Linked DNA regions of Homo sapiens. The protein of the gene in region 1 interacts with the protein of each later gene in a pairwise test. Each region holds a gene or a part of one and is shown in the gene's direction. Other genes may lie near its edges.

Region 1 (7,404 bases):
TGCAGAAAGTTCAAAGAGGGTGGTATGTTCGAGGGTGACCTGGGGTACATTAGAATAGATGACCAGGGAAAGTTCTGCTTTTAGAAAGGAATCTGTCAGTTTAGATCACATGGTATGAAGGAGTCAGCCAATGAGAAGATCATGGGGAAGGACATTGCAAGCAGGGGGCACAGCTAGCGCAAAGGCCCCAGGATAACAGCTATGAGCTCAAGAGTGTTCAAGGGACAGAAAAAAGGCTGGTGTGGCTACAGATTAAGCAAATGAAGGGAAAAGAGTACAAAATGAATGGAAGAAGTAGATAATACCAGACCATAAAGGCTTTGTAGGCTAGGGCAAGGAATTTAGGGTTTATTCTAAGCTCTTAAAAGGTTTCAAGCATGCGTGCACTCAAAAGATCTTTACCGAACTAGCTTTTGCAAGACACTCTACTATGTTCTATAGGGAAGGCAGAAATGACCAAGTTAAAATTCTGTCTTTAAAGAAATTGTGGCTCAGTGGTACAGAAAACAGTAAAGTTTCTAGGGTATATATTATATAGTGGCTTCTTAACACAATATAAGCTACCTACATAGTAATTTTAAAATTATCACTACTTATCTATCCCTGGTAGAAATCATCTTATGTTCTAATATTCACAATTAATTAATTTTTTGACCTAAACATTTAAAATAGCAATGATTTTGAAATAGTAGTATGTCTTTCATTTAAAATGTAACTGTTACTTTTCTTTTTGGATTTTGCCTGGGTCCAACTGACAGCGTTTACTGGCCCTTATTCGTCCTGATTTTCCACGCCATCTCCCCCATCCCCCATTTCATTGCCAAAAGAGTCACCTATGACTCAGATGCAACCAGTAGTGCCTGTCGGGAACTGGCATATTTCTTCACTACTGGAATTGTTGTTTCTGCCTTTGGATTTCCTGTTATTCTTGCTCGTGTGGCTGTGGTAAGTTTTATTTTCTATTGTTTTGCCCAACCGTTGCTGAGTTTACTTCAGAGGCCTGTGTCTGGGACCTCCATTTCATGCTCATTACTTAGGCTTTATACTCAAGGCCGTGTGTTTTTAGTTTCTCTGTTCCTCTACTTTAGACCTGCCTAACAGTAGTTCGGCCATGCCTTCAGAGTGCTTTCTTTATTTCTCTTACAACTTTTAGCCAGACGATATGATTTCTTACTTTTTCTACTTTAAGCTATTCTCTGGAATTGTTCTTAAATTCCTGCCTCTTAAATCTTACAGTAATCCACAGATACTATGCTAGCAGTACTTTTCTAGTTGCAAGATGAAGATATTTCAAATTCTTCTCCTGCAAATGGGATCATGGACTCAACTCTCAACTCAGTATAATAGGTATATGTTGAGGGACAACTGTGTAGCTTCCAGAAAATGCAGTGAATAAGTTGACATCTTCACTTCCAAGACAAAAACTTTCTTTTTGTCTTCAGAGTACACATTGTAGGTATAATTTATTCAATTATTTGCTATTCACTGTCTTTCCTACTATTTGATTTTATTCCCTCCAATTACGTTCTATTTTAATTTTATGAAACTCTTATTTGAGGCATTGAATATCAGATAAGCGCAAGTCTTGTTCATTCAATAAATATCTTTGCAACAACTGCTACTTGTAAAACACCAGAAATAAGAAATAGGTACTGTCTCTGCTCCTGAGGAACACAGAAACTAGCTTGCTGGGTAAGTATACTATAAGTGTACTAAGTGAGACGGTTGAAGCATGATCAGAATGCCATAGGGGCACCAAGAAGAGAGAAATTCCGACTGGCATTTGATATGGGCCTCTAAGGATAAATAGCATTTGTATTGAGGTAGGATGGCTGTTGTATGGAATGACATTCAAGTGTAAGAATGCAGTATATAGAATAAAGAAGAATCCAGTGTGGTAGAGCTAAAAGAAAGTTGTTGAGGTTAAGGCTGGAAGGGTTGTGAAACCTGATTAGCAATGGTCTTGAACCCCATGCCAGTTTGATCTTTGTCTAGATAATGGGGAAAGATTGAAGGTTTTTGAATACAACAAGATTGTCATGACTTTATTTTTCTTGTGCTTTAGACCAGCCCTTCTTAAGCGCTGCAGTAAATATTTATATTTTTTCCTTTCAATACTGCCATCATATTTTGTGAAGAAACTTTCATTGATGTTTCTCTTGCTTAAAGTAAAACAAAAAATGCCCACTAGAGGGTACTCTCACCCCCAAATGTGCTTCTGTAAAACCATCTACAAACCATCTACTAAGCTGGAAAGCAGTTTTCAGTTGTATGAAGACTATTATTTAAAGTCTTTTCTTGCCTAGAAAAGAAACACACAAATTTATAACTCTACAATTTTTATTTTCCATGAAAGAAGTTGATGTGTGCAGAACTTTCAGTACCCAATATTGTAATTGCACTATTTATAATCTTACCACTTGAGTTTTACTTAAGGCAATCATTGTCAATTAAAAACAAGTAGAGAAATATGTCTAATTGGGAACATGTTAAGGATGATACCAGACTTAATTAACAAGCATCACAGAAGTAATTAGACTCATTACTGAACAGTTCATTGTCTCCTGTTACATTATTAAGCCTTTTAGCAGCTTTGTGTAACATTTCATTGGATGTTTCTAATGCAGAAAATAATAGGGATTGCAAAGAGTACAATATGAAGGAAGTAAGGATTTAATCCTTCTTTTCTTGTCTTTCAGATCAAATGGGGAGCCTGCGGCCTTGTGTTGGCAGGCAATGCAGTCATTTTCCTTACAATTCAAGGGTTTTTCCTTATATTTGGAAGAGGAGATGATTTTAGCTGGGAGCAGTGGTAGCACTTTATTCTGATTACAGTGCATTGAATTTCTTAGAACTCATACTATCTGTATACATGTGCACATGCGGCATTTTACTATGAAATTTAATATGCTGGGTTTTTTAATACCTTTATATATCATGTTCACTTTAAGAAAGACTTCATAAGTAGGAGATGAGTTTTATTCTCAGCAAATAGACCTGTCAAATTTAGATTATGTTACTCAAATTATGTTACTTGTTTGGCTGTTCATGTAGTCACGGTGCTCTCAGAAAATATATTAACGCAGTCTTGTAGGCAGCTGCCACCTTATGCAGTGCATCGAAACCTTTTGCTTGGGGATGTGCTTGGAGAGGCAGATAACGCTGAAGCAGGCCTCTCATGACCCAGGAAGGCCGGGGTGGATCCCTCTTTGTGTTGTAGTCCATGCTATTAAAAGTGTGGCCCACAGACCAAGAGCCTCAACATTTCCTAGAGCCTTATTAGAAATGCAGAATCTGAAGCCCCACTCTGGACCCAGGACATTTTGATGAGATCCAAAGGAGTTGTATGCACATGAAAGTTTGAGAAGCATCATCATAGAGAAGTAAACATCACACCCAACTTCCTTATCTTTCCAGTGGCTAAACCACTTAACCTCTCTGGGTGTTACCTGCTCATTTGTTTAAAAAAAAAAAAAAAGTCTCACCTGCTTTCATGCTGAGGACAAGTTCAGATGTTCAAGCCTATAATATTTAGGCAGTTCCTCAAATTTATGAAAAGTGTTCTCAGAATTGGGAGACAGTCAAAGGGTACAAAGCCTCAGTTAGGAGGAATAAGTGTGATTTTTTTTTAAAGATCACTTGCACAGCATGCTAAATATAGGAATAATTGAATGTATATTTCAATATTGCTAAGAGAGTAAATTTCTAATGTTCTCATAAAAAAGTTAAATATTTGAGATCATATGTTAATTAGTGTAATCATTCCACCTTATATTCAAAAATCATAAAACCGTATTGTACCCTATAAAAATATACAATAATTTGTCAATATATAATCAAAATAAAAAACAAAACATACTCTCTCCCCCAAAAAAACATCTCAGTGGGGAACAGATGTATCTTTTCATCTGAAAGACAATGCTGGGGGAAGAGCTCCACTGAGATGCGGGCAGGGAGGCTGGGCTCGAGCCAGCCCCTGCGTTAGCAGGAGGGGGAGAACAGATAGGTAACTCTTTTACATTTCCTTTATGATCTGGCACTTCTCCCCAGCTCCTTCCCTCTGCCCCCCACCCCTACTCCTCAACAGTTCTGGTTTGCCCTGACTTCTCTACGGCTCTGGCTTCTTCCCGAAGAGATATAGGAGCCATGTAAGCACGCAGTGGGTGAACTGCTTAATTTCACTACGTGTTGATGTACTTGTCTTCCGTCCTGTAGGTCTTTTCTATATAACTTTATGCCACCCTTAAATGAATCATTGGGTATACCTGTCATGTTGGATCCTGTAATCACAGTTTTCCCTGCTCACCTTTTTGTCTAAGATCTATTGAGAAAGGGAAATATGGGAAGGAGAACCATTTGATCAGAATACAACCAATAGTCTTTAAGCATTGTTAAAGTATGAAACTGAAATACATTCAAAACACTTAATCCTTGAGGCTTGTGATCTGAGTAATTAGCAGGTATGATGCTGGGACTGGAAAATAGAAAGTAATAACTAAAGGGTTAATGTGCAACGTTATTTTTTGGCCTTGTTCATGATTTTATGTTTTCAGTGTCCTGTGTACATATAGAATTGTTAAAGTTGTCATTTCCAATATTTATATTAGAAAAATTATTTAGATACTTTATAATTTTAACCGGCATTTTTAATAATGACACTTGCATTTATTGTATTGTAATAAATTTCACTTTTAACTTTAAAAGTTTAACTTTAAAATTTTTTTGTGATGTTGCCTTGCCTGAAAAGATAACAAAAATGAGAGAATTTCTTGATGTTTTAAAATGGGCAGTTTTGAGCAATAATCTGTCCTAACAGAACAGTAGCAATAAGTTTTAGGATACCATCTTGAATGTCTAGTTGGTGTGCAATAGCTTTTCTTTCTAAGATGGCAATAATGATTCATTTCTACTACATTTTGCAAAAGTGTTTTTGTTGCTTATACACATTTTCAATAACCAAGGTAGCCTTCATATGTAGCCTTAAAGCATTACCTCTTGATTGTATCTTTAGATTGATATAAAGTACTTGCATATAGAGTATTTGAAGTGATAGATTATTAGATTTGCTCTATGTCTGAAAAGAGAGCTATTCTGCAGTGCCTAAATATCATTTAAACAGTAAATATTAATAGGAAATATTGCTATATCTGAATATATAATACAAAAGTTTGATCATGGTGACACAAATGTTGGACATTTTTTTCCTTATAAAAGGCTCTTTTTTTATATATTGTACAATATATTTGGAGATTCAGAGCATAGTGACTATAGTCGAAAACTGAGATTGCACTTCCAAAATTGGCCACAAGTAAATAATCTTATGAAGGGATTCTTTATCATGTTTCAAACAAGTGGGTTACAAGCAGACTTTGAGACACTTTTCCACAGAAACAATACTATGAATTGGTGATTGAGTTCCCAGGCCAAGCCTCCCTCAACAGGTTCAACTCTAATATACCTAACCTGTGATACTGAAGGTGCCTGCCTGAGTTTTGGGTCTCTGAGACAGGGTAGTGTGAGTAGTTTGGAGGAAGGACAGTGCAACTTTCCACCCCTTTTCCTAAGAACAAGGTCTTTCTCCTTTTAATTTTTCCACTCATTTTCACCTCCTAATGCCCTTGAGATCCAGGTACACTCCTGGGAGTTTTGTTCACCTCTCCCAACTGAGAACCTTCCCACTGGGCTCCATCCTCCCTCCTGAGGTTCTTCATATTCCAGAGTCACCCACCCTTCTCCTCCCATTAGTCAGTTCTCTAAGTACAGCTGATGTCATGTGGTGCTGAGAAGAAAGCAGATCACACTTCATCACAGAAAGAATGCCTTGTGATTATCTTCTCCACATCTGAAATTCCTTTTGACACCTGCATTGGGCCGACTGCCATTCCCATGACTGCTGCACCTGCGTTTTTAGAGAATGCCTCATAACCCACTGATTCTCATTCACAGAGAATGGGAGAACGGAATGAAGAAAGATTCCAGCAGCTTATAGAAGGATAGCAATATTTTGGGACAGGGAAAATCCTGTCATACCTCATCTCTTCCTCAGGAGGAGTTCTGAGCTGGTCCTGCTTTTCATAGTTGTTTCTTTTCTTCCACTTAAGAACTCATAGATTTTTCTTACTGTCCTAAGGAAGTCCTTACCTCTGAGGTATCTCCTCAATGAATACTGTTTTCAAGGCTGAAATAGTTCATTATGTTAATAACCTTCTTTATGTTCTCAGGGAAATGCTTAGGTGGTGTCACAAAATGTGCCTTTTCTTTTCTTTTTTTTTTTTTTTTTTTGAGGCAGAGTCTCGCTCTGTTGCCCAGGCTGGAGTGCAGTGGTGCGATCTTGGCTCACTGCAAGCTCCGCCTCCCGGGTTCACGCCATTCTCCTGCCTCAGCCTCCCAAGGAGCTGGGACTACAGGCTCCCGCCACCACGCCTGGCTAATTTTTTTGTATTTTTAGTAAAGACGGGTTTCATCGTGTTAGCCAGGATGGTCTCGATCTCCTGACCTCATGATCCGCCCGCCTCTGCCTCCCAAAGTGCTGGGATTACAGGCCTGAGCCACTGTGCCCAGCCAAAATGTGCCTTTGCAAAGTTTGCGAAATCAGATTTTGTATCCCAATAGAACCAAAATATTTATGAGGATGCTAGCATTTTCCAAGCATAGTAATTAGTTCACAACTGAGAAATATTATGTCTGTAGTAGATAAATATTAGTTGTGCATTTTAATTTAATTCTCCTTTTTCCATTTTGTCTCATGAAGTACCTTATTGCAAAAATCCCACTGAGTAATAGCTCATAAATTATAATCTTTCAAATAGCCATGCTACCAGCGTACAACAGTGATACATGTAACCCCAAATGTGATGTGAGAGGACGATTACTTTGTAAATAAAACTTGTTATTGACATTTTAACAAAGGCTTTTATGTACATTATTAAATGAAAAAGTTTATATTTTACTTTGCGGTACGTTACATTTGGAAAGGAGATCAGCAAGTTAATTTTCCCAGTGTTTTTGTCTGTATAATCTTAATGTGAATCTGACCAGTTTGAAGCCTGTACTTGCTGTAGTTGAAGAGAAACAGTTCAGGAATGTTGTGCTGACTGGAAGGAATCCAGGCCTTAATTTCTGTGGCTGACACTCCCCATGGTGGACATGGAAGATTGGAAAAGCTGTATTGGAAAAGAAAAAAACCTGACACCTTAAGAAAAGTGCTCTACATATTTTGAAGAGTCTTTTTGCACACTACAGAAAAGAATGCACTAATAGAAAGTAGTCTTTAAGGAATAATATGTCCTCCTTATGCACAAAACATTTGGGAAAGATCTGATGTTTTACTAGTGGATTTAGGCAGCCAGATTGTAAAGAAATCAAGCTAGTTATTTCTTTGCATTGCCAAGCTAAGTGTAAAGT
Region 2 (5,085 bases), on another chromosome or scaffold:
TAGTCAATATGCCAGAGGTGCATATTTTAGCCCAGGCTGGTCTTGATCTCCTGGCCTCAAGCAATCCTTCCACCTTGGCCTATCAAAGTTGTGGGATTACAGGCATGAGCCGCGGTGCATGGCCCCCAGGCATCTTTCATTCCTACAGACTTGGCTCATGGTCTTTGTGGTCCCTTTTGGCAATTAGAGCTCCAGCCATCACATCTGTGTTCCAGGCATCAGGTCAGAGGGTGGGACAGAGAACATGAGGGTACCCCATTGGCCAAAACGTAGTCACATGGCCATGCCTAGCTGCAAGAGAGACAAAAGAATGACTCTTAGGAGATGCTAACAGTCCTTTGTCCCGCTGAGAAGCTTTTTTTAAGAAGGCTGTTGTGAGCCTTTGAGCCATCTTAACACTCCATAATGGAGATCTAGAACTTTTGGTAGCCCAGACTGACCTCTGGGATTGGGAGACAGGGGCAGGTGATTTCTGGGGTACTTTCTGGCTGGATGATATGGTTCTGGGCATTTCCGGGGGTGGCTGCGAGAACAGCCTTCCTTCTCCACAGCCAAGCTTGGTCTCATGTTTGGTGCTTTGAGGATCTTTAACCCTCTCCTGCCTGTGTCCTGTGAACTAACCACCACTAACCCAGTGCTCTTGTCTGTCTCTCCCCTAACCACCCCCTCCCGCCTGTCCTTGTCCTCGCCGGCCTTTGTCCCCAGGCGGGCCAGGCTGTGCTGGCCTTCCAGCGGTACCAGATTGGCGCCGACTCGGCCCTCTTCTCCCAGGACTACATGGACCCCAGCCAGGACTCCAGCATGCCTTACGCGCCCTACGTGGAGCCCACTGGGCCGGATCCCGCCGGTATGGGCGGCACCTACCAGCAGCCGGCCAACACCTTCGACACCGAGCCCCAGGGCTACCAGTCGCAGGGCTACTGAGCCACAGTGACCGCCTGCCCCCGCCCCTCCCCATCTGTCCCCTCTCTCCACACCCAGCCCCTGCTCCTGCCCAGGCTGCCCTGCCCAGCGCCTCATCAGCCTCTGCCTTGTCCCACTGAGGTCCAGGGTAGCTCGGGGCAGGGGTGGGGCAGTCCAGTGTTGGGGACTGTCTACGTATGTGCAAGTATATCCCAGGGCATGTGCCCCGCAGGGGCCTAGAGGGTGGGGGCCAGGGGTATTTGCATTCATACATTGTGTCATCAAGCATTCCTTGAGCGCCTACTGGGCATCCGGCCTGTGCTGGGCATGGGTGGTGACATTGGCAGAAATGGCCACTGGAAAGGGGAGCGATGAGCTGTGGAGGAAGCCCTGGTGGTACCAGAGGCCAGAATGGTGGGAAAGACAGATCCAGATAATGCTGGGAAGTGTGGCTACACCGTGGCTTGGTCATAGGGTGAGTGTAAACACCCACAGGACACTGGGGGCTGTCACCCTGCTCTGGCAGTCCTGCTAAGAGTGTCAGGGCCGTCTCCATTTTATGGTTGAGGAAACTGAGGTCTAGAGAGGTCAAGATTACTTGCCCAGAATCACTCAGGCAGCTAGTGATAGAGGTGGGGCCAAGCCCAGGCTGCCCGACTGCAGACCACGTGCTCTTCCCTGGCCACCCACCTCCTACCATCCCCACGCTTGGGGCTTCCCTGCTCAGTGTTACTGTCATTCTGGGAGGCCTTGGGGCCCTCAGCCCCTTGAGACACCCTGATTCTGCTGCATGCCAAGGGCCTGTTCTGCCCCAGCTGTTCCTCCTCCCCTGGGGACAGCCCCACCTCCGGGTCCCTCCACCCACATCCCCCTGGTCCTACCCCTGGCCCTTGGCCTCCTCCAAGAGGGCTCACCCCGGGTGCTGCTCTGTGCTCTGCGTGTCCCACAGACGCTTGTTCCAGGGGGCTCCAGCAAACCCCTTCGTGGTCTCTCAAAGGACTGATCACTGTCCTTGCCTCTAGGAGGGGTCACTAAGCCCTTACCTAGGGCTGGGTGGACAACAAGGCACAGATGAGGGTGTGACTGGCCCGAGGTCACGGTGAGTGAGTGGCAAAGCTGGCCCTGACGCCTGGGTTTCTTGGCCCCAGCTGCCCAGCAGGTGCCTCGATTCCCTGCCCTTGTGACCTCCCAGGAAACAGAACTGATCTGGGACACTATGTCACCTCTCCTCTCATCTGGGGTCAGTCAGGGTTCGGGGGCTGCAGCAGCCAAGCGCATGAGAGGTGTTTCCTTGGCCTTCCAGAAGGCCCACTGTGGAGCCAGCCTCCCTATGGGAGGCAGAGCGGCAAGGACAGGGCTTTGGAATCAGCCAGGTCGGCTCCTGGGCTGTGGCCGTGGAGAGACACTGCCCCCAGGATGACACAGGCAAGAGCCCCTGAGGCATGGGAGGCCCAGGGAAGACCATGGGCTGTAGGGGAGAGTGTGGCAGGTGACCCAAAGGCCCAAAGAGGGCCGTGGGGCCTGAGGAGGTCATAATCTCTTCTGAGTGGGGGCAGGTCGATTCTTGCACAAGGTGGGCTCTTCACTGAGCCATAAGGGACAGGGAGGTATGGGAGAGCGCTGGGGGCCCATCCCCCTGTCCACCCAGTGTCCACTGGCCTGTCCTTCAGGGAGCAGAGCAGAGCAGGTGGTGGACGGGCCCAGTGCTGGGTGTTTTCACCACCATCCCCCCATCCCCCATCTAAGAATCCTAAGAGGCAGGCGATCCCTCACCTGCTTACTCACTCAGCAGTTACCCGGCCCCTGTGCTGGAGATACCAAGGGCATGGGTGGTCCCTGCTTCGATGGCCCCAAAGCTGGGCCAGAGTTAAGGGAAAGAGGAGGAAGTCCTAAGCAGAGAAGTAGCACCATTATCCCCATTTAACAGAAGGGAAACTGAGGCTCGGCAAGCATAGGCGAGTTGGCAGTGGAACACGGATCTAAACTCAGGTGTGTCCAAGTCCTCCCAAAGGACAGCAGTGATGGAGAGGACCCCAGCCAGCTGTGTGACAGCTGGTTGTTGCTGACTTCATTTTCCAATCCGGAGAAGGGGCTCTGTCCACAGTCCCCCGCCGCCAGGTGGCCCACATGGGACCAGCATGGGGGCAGGTTATCTGTTGGCCTGAAGAGTGAAACCTGTACCAGGCCAAAGGTGAGGGCGTGAGTGAGGGCAGGAGTGTTTATGGCAGAGTGAAGTTCTGTGCCCACCACAAGAGGCTGTGAGATGTTCTGACCCTCACCCACTGTCCACCAAAAGCCTCTCCTGCTGATGGGCACTAGGAGACCTCAGGGTACTGCCCATCTGTTTCTCCTCGGGTGCCAGCCAGCTGCTGGTGATCCTCAGCCGGAGGGCAGGGTACCAGGTAAGCTTAACTCCATCTTGGGTGTTTGTGACAGGCCCTGCCTGCCACCCTAGGCAGGGAAAGCTGTCAAGACTCCTGCCAGGAATGGGGGGTGCTGAGTCATCTCACGAAGAATCCCTCACTCTTCCCGGGTTCAGCCCAGAAGCCCTTCCAGGCATGATCTTCCCCATCAGGCTGGGCTCTGGCAGGGACCTGCCCAGGATGGAGATGAGAGAGGGTGAGAGATGGAGGGCGAGATTTGGATGGGACCCAGGGCTCCTGACTCTGCCCTGGAAGGTTCATGGGGAAACTCGCTCCTTCTGTTGGCAGAGGACAGCCCCTGGGGAACCCCAGGCCCAACTCTGTCCGGTATCCCTTTTCCTCCCAGCTGCCCTCCCCTACTTCTCCCTTGCTCCCAAAGCTTTCCTTGGAGAAGGGCCCTCCTGCAGCTGGACCCTGCAGGGTGGCTCCCTCCTCCCCATCAAGCACAAGAGAGGGCCCAGGAAAAAAGGTTTCACATAAGTGTAGAGTCGCAAGGACGCTTAGAGTCGGCAGAGTCTGGGGTAGGGAGACAGCGACTTGTCCAAGGTCAAGCACAGAGGGAGAGGTTCAGGAGTCAGGTCTTCTGCCTTCTGAGTTGGCTCATCCTGGGCAGTCACAGACTGTCCTGCCTGCACGGCTCCTATCCACCTGGGGGTGTCGCAGTTGAGGGGCTAATTCCCAGGGGACTGACGTTAGTTCCCTACTCCATCCTTCCCTGGTGATTCTTGATCTTCAAAGCCTCGGGGATCCCAGGTTTCCCCATGTAACTGAGACACCCTGCCTGTTAGCCCTGGGAGACCCCTAACCTTGGCCCAAGACCCCTTTGATTCTCTAAGGAGCACGAAAGGGGGAATGCCCCTCCCAGGAGTTTATGGGAGAAGGGACTGGGCCGGCTGCCTCCCAGCGATGCACTTGACCTGACACTCCCCATGTCCTGGTGCGCACAGCCCTTGTCGGTGCCCCGGCCCCTCCCGCAGCGTTACTGCCTGTGTATAGTATAAATATATATATTTTCTATATATAAGATGTATAATATAAGGCTCCACAAATATATCTGTGTGTGTGTGTGCGTGTGTGTGCGGTGAAGGGCGGTCCCCATCCTGGGCCCCCACTCTAGACCCCCCCACCACCTGGTTAAGTCTCGAGTGAATCCAGTGGCCCCGTGGCACCCTCCTTTATGACATCCATCCATCTGTGGTGAACCAAGTGAAGGTGGTGACTTCTGGTGACATAGTAATAAAGTGAAGACTCAGAACCCACCAGCGATTGCAAGTGTGTCACCGTGTTTCTTTGTTCTTCATTCTGCGTTTGGCTTGGATGCTCCATCCCGTTTGTCTCCTTAGACAGGCCATGTCTTACTTGGTTATTATTGTTTGTTAATTTTTCATTACACAATGAACCTATGAATATATTATCTTTTTAAAAAGTAAAATTGGCCGACTGCAGTGGCTCATGCCTGTAATCCCAACACTTTGGGAGGCCAAGGTGGGTGGATCACCTGAGGTTAGGAGTTCGAGACCAGCCTGACCGACATGGTGAAAACCTGTCTCTACTAAAAATACAAAAAAAAAAAAAAATTAGCCGGGTGTGGTGGCAGACGCCTGTAATCCCAGCTACTCGGGAGGCTGAGACAGGAGAATCACTTGAACCGGGGAGGCAGAGGTTGCAGTGAGCCAAGATTGTGCCATTGCACTCCAGCCTTGGCATCAAGAGCAAAAATCCATCTAAAAAAAAAAAGGAAAATTATTACAGTTGAAGC
Region 3 (7,000 bases), about 12 Mb from region 1:
AGTGCAAGAAAGTTTAAAGACAGTGGCCCTCGCAAAAGCCCCTGTGGAGTGAGGAAGTTTAATTTTTTTCCTAAAGGATTGGGAGAACACTTGTGTTCCAGATCACGGATGGTGGGGAAAGCTGACACAAGGTGAGGCTTAGGAGGAGGCAGGTGACAAATCACCCAGGGCTTTATCAACTGTGTTAAGGACTTGGGTCTTTAGAAAAGCACACAGGATGCTGGGGGTGGGGTGGCGGGGGGTGGGTCATGAAAGGCTTCTCCGGGGAGGAACGGTAGTATTGGATGAAAAAGTAGAGGTCAGAAGCCTTCAGGTGAAAGGCATTGTTTCAGGAAAGGAGCAGAGGCTGAAACTAGCTTAGGATATGCCAGGATGTAAAAGCAGAGAATGTTGGTGGCAGAAATAAGACACATACCAGTTTTATGCTCAAGGAGCTGAGATGGACAAGAATAACCAGCACAGAGCAGACTGTGTGAAGAGTCGTCATGTTAGGGGTACACGCAGCCCACACTCCAGTCAAACTATGCCGTCACTGTCCCTCCATCACGGGCACACTTTCCATCTTCTGGGTCTTGCTCATCCCCTTCCCTTTGCATGAGATGCCATCCCCAGCACCTCTGGCCATCCTTCTCATATGGTATCTTCTCCAAGAAACCTTTCCTGATCCCAATAACTAGAGGAGTTATCGCCCTCCTTGGGGCCTTTTTGACCTTTGTGCTTCTAAAGTGGTACTGTCTGTTCCTCCTTCTGGCATTCCTTCCCCCTGGTAAACTACTGCTTTTTAAAAATTTTTTAATTTTCATGGGTATGTAGTAGGTATATATACTTACAGGGTACACTCATATATTTTGATACAGGCATGTAATGTGTAGTAATTGCATCAGGGTAAACAGGGTGTCCATCACTTCAAGCATTTATCCTTTGTATTACAAACAATCCAATTATACTCTTTTTCTCTCTTTTTTTTTTTTTTTTTTTGAGACCGAGTCTCGCTCTGTCACCCAGGCTGGAGTGCAGTGACATGATCTCAGATCATTGCATCCTTCACCTCCCATTTCAAGCGATTCTTGTGCCTCACCCTCCTGAGTAGCTGGGATTACACGTGTCCACCAACATGCCTAGCTAATTTTTATGTTTTTAGTAGAGATGGGTTTTTACCATGTTGGCCAGCCTGGTCTCGAACTCCTGACCTCAAGTGATCTGCTCGCCTCAGCCTCCCAAAGTGCTGGGATTACAGGCGTGAGCCACTGCATCCAGCCCAGTTATACTTTACTTTTCTTTCTTTTTTTGTGAGACAGAGTCTCACTCTGTTGCCAGGCTGGAGTGCAGTGGTGCGATCTCGGCTCACTGCAACCTCTGCCTCCTGGGTTCAAGCGATTCTCCTGCCTCAGCGTCCCAAGTAGCTGGGACCACCAGTTTGTGTGTGCCACCACGCCCAGCTTCAGTTATACTTTTCTAGTTATTTTAACTACTGCTTTTTAACTGTGAGAGTTAAGTATATCTTCCTTGGTCTAATTCCCTCCAGCAAAGTTGTGACTATCTTTTTAAATGTCATTGCCCTGTACAATCAATAAGAGGTACCTGTAATGATAGTTATTATTTCATCATCCTCAAAATCTCTTTGTGGGGTAGGTATTATCTATGTTTTATAATTGAAGAAACAGAGACTCAGAGCCATGGAGTAATTTGCTCAAGGTCATGGAGCTACTGAGTATTAAGAGTCTTACCTTGAACAAAGGACCATCTCACTCCAGAACCTCATGTTGCTTAAACTACCCAAACATTGCCAATTGAGGCTTCAGTAATTGTTGCATATTAGCTACCTGATTAATTTCAGTCACTTTAGTGTTCTCCATAAAACTGCTCATATAGTTGAGAGGCAATAAGAGTGAACTCAGCTGTCCTACTGCTAGGACTGGTGCCCTGCTTGTAGTGTTATAATGGTGCCCTGCTGGCACTCTTCCTTTGGCCTTCGAAGGTTCAGAGCTGCCCTGAATTTTATTCAAGAGCAGCTGAAATAAAGTATGTTAGGATATTCGGAGACAGGAAGTCTCAATCACTGCTGGTGGACACAAGTAGGTAAGGTTCTTTTGGAAAGCAGTTTGGTAACATGGTTCAGGATCCTTGAAAATGGTTTGCACCCTGTTGACCTAGTGATCACACTGATAGGTGTTCATCTTAAGGCTGCCCCCCAAAAAGCTTTTTCTACACAGACACTCCTTTTGTATTTGTAAGAAAACCTTCATTGATGGAATATTATGCAGTCACATAAGTGATCATTTTAAGAGACTGTTATATGAAAAATCATTTTTGTGTATAATCCCCAATTTTACATAATCTTGACAAAGCAGGATGCAAAATTAATTATAGTATCATGTTCTAGATCAGTACTTGGCACATTGTGGGCATGCAGTAAATATTTGTTGAATAAATGAATGATCATCAGTGGCATGAATCTCACTATGTGAAGAAAAGGAAATATACTAAAATGTTAATAGTGTTTGCCTTTATGTGGTAGAACTAAGAGTGTTTTTTTGTTTTTTGGGTTTTTTTTTTTTTTTTTGAGACAAAGTCTTACTCTCTTGCCCAGGCTGGAGTACAGTGGTATGATCACGGCTCACTGCAGCCTCTACCTCTGAGGCTCGAGCAGTCCTCTTGCCTTGGCCTCCCAAAGTGCTGGAATTATAGACATGAGCCACCATGCCTGGCCTAAGAGTGGTTTTTATCCTGTGATTTCTACTTTCTTTTTTCCTTTTTTTTTGAGACATAGTCTCACTCTGTCACACAGGCTGGAGTGCAGTGGTGTGATCTCGGCTCACTGCAACCTTTGCCTCCTGGGTTCAAGTGATTCTCCTGTCTCAGCCTCCAGCATAACTGGGATTACAAGGCATGTGCCACTACACCCGGCTAATTTTTGTATTTTTAGTAGAGACAGCATTTCACCATGTTGGCCAGGCTGGTCGAACTCCTGACCTCAGGTGATCCGCCTGCCTTGGCCTCCCAAAGTGCTGGGATTACAGGCGTGAGTCACTGTGCGCAGCTGATCCCACTTTCATTTTTGTTCCCATATTTTCTGTAGTGATTATGTAGACTTACTGGAAAAAATAACCTTCATTAAAATTTTTTGGACTTGAATCAAAGAAGTAAAGTTTAGGACTTAGATTATATTCCTTGTTCTCCCAAAATTATTTAAAATAAATGTTATTCTCCCCATGATACAGATGAAAACACTGAGGTTTAGAGGGGTTTAGTTACTTACTCAGGCTTGTGTATTTAGTAAGTGGCTAGCTGAGCCAGAACCAAAATCTAGGTCTGACTCCAAATTCTGTTGTCTTCATAGTCATTTTTCTATATCAGATTGATCTCCTGATGAGATTTTTTGTTTTTCAAAGCTTTTGCCCTTTGTATCAGGTAGGGTCTATAGCAAAGCTGAGGTTGTGACAGCTTGTCTTTAAATTCAAAGTATAGCATTTCTAGTGTGGGTAAGGTTTCTGAGGCCCGTGTGCTCTAATTGATTTCAGAATTTGGCAATGCAGCCACTTCTCTGACAGCAAACCCAGATGCCACCACAGTAAACATTGAGGATCCTGGTGAAACCCCAAAACATCAGCCAGGATCCCCAAGAGGCTCAGGAAGAGAAGAAGATGATGAGTTACTGGGAAATGATGACTCTGACAAAACTGAGGTTTGAACTTGTCTTTGAGATATTTTTTAAACAATTTTTAAAGCTTGTTTATGTGCTTATTCACTGTCTACTGTGTGCCAGGTACAGTGTCAGGCAATGACAGCTCAGAGGTAAATGACACATGGCCTCTTCCTTGGTGGGGGAAACAGGCAAACAGACCATTACTTTCCGTAAGTACACTTGTGGAGGGGAACACTGGGGTAGTGAGCAGAGATCCTAGCTTATGGAATGTGGGACTCCCATGCTCAATATTTTCTAATATTAGAGTAGGAAAGAACCTTCATGGCCCTCTGTTTTAGCCTCTCTCCTGAGATATTGATGCTGTCCTTGCTATGTAGGAAAGATAACACTTGGAGCCAGGCGTGGTGGCTCACGCATATAATCCCAGCATTTTGGGAGGCTGAGGCGGGCAGATCACTTGAGCCCAGGAGTTCGAGACCAGCCTGGGCAACATGGTGAAACTCCACCTCTACAAAAAGTACAAAATATTAGCCGAGTATGGTGGTGGACACCTGTAGCCCCAGCTACTCGGGAAACTAAGGTGGGAGGATTGCTTGAGCTTGGGGAGTAGAGGTTGCAGTGAGCTGAGATTGCACCACTACACTCCAGCCTCGGCAACAGAGTGAGACCCTGTCTCCAGAAGAAAGAAAAAAAAAAAAAGGAAAGATTGAAAACACTTGCTTGAGTACCTCCAGGAATGGGCTGTTTACCACCATGTAAGGCAGTTGCTGCCACTGTCGACTTTAATTGTGAAAATGTTTTTCTTTAATGTTTTTTCTTCGACTTTTATTTTAACTTCAGGGGTCATGTGCAGGAGGTACAGGTTTGTTACATAGGTAAACATGTGCCACAGTGGTTTGCTGCACAGATCACCCCATCACCTAGGTATTAAGCCCAGCATCCATTAGCTCTTCTTCCTGATGCTCCCCCTCCCATGTGTCCATGTGTTCTCACCATTCAGCTCCCACTTATAAGTGAGAAGATGTGGTGTTTGGTTTTCTGTTCCTGTGTTAGTTTGCTAAGGATAATGGCTTCCAACTCCATCCATGTCCCTGCAAAGGACATGATCTCATTCCTTTTTCTGGCTGCGTAGTATTCCATGGTTGTATATATACCATATTTTCTTTATCCAGTCTATCATTGATGGGCATTTAGGTTGATTCCGTATCTTTGCTATTGTGAATAGTGCTGCAGTGAACATAAATGTGCATGTATCTTTATAATAGAATGATTTATATTTCTCTGGGTATATACCCAGTAATGGGATTGCTGGGTCAAATAGTATTTCTGCCTCTAGGTCTTTGAGGAATCGCCACACTGTCTTCCACAATGGTTGAACTAATTTACACTCCCACCAACAGTGTAAAAGCATTCCTTTTTCTCCGCAACTTCACTAGCATCTGTTGTTTCTTGACTTTTTAATAATCACCATTCTGACTGGCATGATATGGTGTCTCATTGTGGTTTTGATTTGCATTTCTCAAATCAAGATATTGAGCTTTCTTTCATATGTTTTTTGGCCACATGTATGTCTTTTGAGAAGTGTCTGTTCATGTCCCTTGCCCACTTTTTAATGGAGTTGTTTTTTCCTTGTAAATTTGCTTAAGTACTTTGTAGACTCTGGATATTAGACCTTTGTTAGATGGATAGATTGCAAAAATTTTCTCTCATTCTGTAGGTTGTCTGTTCACTCTGAAGATAGTTTCTTTTGCTGTGCAGAAGCTCTTTAGTTTAATTAGATCCCATTTGTCAATTTTTGCTTTTGTTGCAATTGCTTTTGGTGTTTTCATCATGAAATCTTTGCCCATGCCTATGTCCTGATTGGTATTCCCTAGATTTTCTTTCTTTTTCTTTTTTTTTTTTTTTTTGAGATGGAGTCTTGCTTTGTCGCCTAGGCTGGAGGCTCATTGCAACCTCCGCCTCCTGGGTTCAAGCGATTCTCCTGCCTCAGCCTCCCAAGCAGCTGGGACTACAGGCACGTGCCACCATGCCCAACTAATTTTTGTATTTTTAGTAGAGACGGGGTTTCACCATATTGGCCAGGCTGGTCTCGAACTCCTTACCTCATGATCCACCCATCTTGGCCTCCCAAAGTGCTGGGATTACAGGCATGAGCCACCGCGCCCAGCTGGTATTCCCTAGATTCTCTTCTAGGGTTTTTTTAGTTTTGTGTTTTACATTTAAGTCTTTAATCCACCTTGAGTTAATTTTTGCTTATGGTATAAGGAAGGGGTCCAGTTTCAGTTTTCTGCATATGGCTAGCCAGTTCTCCCAGCACTATTTATTGAATAGGGAATCCTTTCCCCATTGCTTGTTTTTGTCAGGTTTTTCGAAGATCAGATGGTTGTAGACGTGCATTCTTATTTCTGAGTTCTCTGTTCTGTTTCATTGGTCTATGTGTCTGTTCTTGTACCAGTACCATGCTGTTTTGGTTACTGTAGACTTGTAGTTTAGTTTGAAGTCAGGTAGCATGATGCCTCCAGCTTTGTTCTTTTTGCTTAGGATTGTCTTGACTATTTGGGCTCTCTTTTGATTCCATATGAATTTTAAAATAGTTTTTTTCTAATTCCGTGAAGAATGTCAATGGTAGTTTACTGGGAGTGGCATTGAATCTATAAATTACTTTGGGCAGTATGCCATTTGCACAATACTGATTCTTCCTAACTATGAGCATGGAATGTTTTTCCATTTGTTTGTGTCCTCTCTTATTTCTTTGAGCAGTAGTTTATAGTTTTCTTTGAAGAGGTCCTTTACTTCCCTTGTTCCTAGGTATTTTATTCTTTTTGTAGCAGTTCATTCATACAAAAGAACGAGAGTTCATTCATAATTTGGCCCTCTGCTTGCCTGTTGTCGGTGTATAGGAATACTAACAATTTTTGCACATTGATTTTGTATCCTGAGACTTTGCTGAAGTTGCTTACCAGCTTAAGAAGCTTTTGGGCTGAGATGATGGGGTTTTTTAGATATAGAAACATGTCATCTTGCAAACAAAGGTGATTTGACTTACTCTCTTCCTATTTGAATACCCTCTTCCTATTTGAATACCCTTTATTTGTTTCTCTTCCCTGATTGCCCTGGCCAGAACTTCTAATACTATTGAATAGGAGTGATAAGAGAGGGCATCCATGTCTTGTGCTGGTTTTCAAGGGGAATGCTTTCCTTGGTTGGGGATGGGTGTTCCTTTGTCTCCGTGCTGCTCCTGGGTGAGCCATCGCCCCACCCTGCTTTTCTTCATTCTCCGTGGGTCGAGCTACTTGCCTAGTCAGTCCCAATGCAAGAACCTGGGTATTTCAGTTGAAGGTGCTGAATTCATTC

Evidence for each region.
Region 2: the proteins of LEPROT (region 1) and SYNGR1 interact in binary tests that used the Homo sapiens proteins (3 or more experiments, as listed by UniProt).
Region 3: the proteins of LEPROT (region 1) and YIPF1 interact in binary tests that used the Homo sapiens proteins (3 or more experiments, as listed by UniProt).

The regions. Positions count from the first base shown.
Region 1 is NC_000001.11:65,429,104-65,436,507, forward strand, and holds the end of LEPROT (leptin receptor gene-related protein), read left to right. Parts: intron 1-758; coding exon 759-945; intron 946-2,699; coding exon 2,700-2,816; 3' UTR 2,817-6,904; downstream 6,905-7,404. UniProt on the Homo sapiens protein: Negatively regulates leptin receptor (LEPR) cell surface expression, and thus decreases response to leptin. Negatively regulates growth hormone (GH) receptor cell surface expression in liver.
Region 2 is NC_000022.11:39,380,991-39,386,075, forward strand, and holds the end of SYNGR1 (synaptogyrin-1), read left to right. Parts: intron 1-705; coding exon 706-924; 3' UTR 925-4,585; downstream 4,586-5,085. UniProt on the Homo sapiens protein: May play a role in regulated exocytosis. Modulates the localization of synaptophysin/SYP into synaptic-like microvesicles and may therefore play a role in synaptic-like microvesicle formation and/or maturation.
Region 3 is NC_000001.11:53,879,798-53,886,797, reverse strand, and holds part of YIPF1 (protein YIPF1), read left to right. Parts: intron 1-3,521; coding exon 3,522-3,685; intron 3,686-7,000.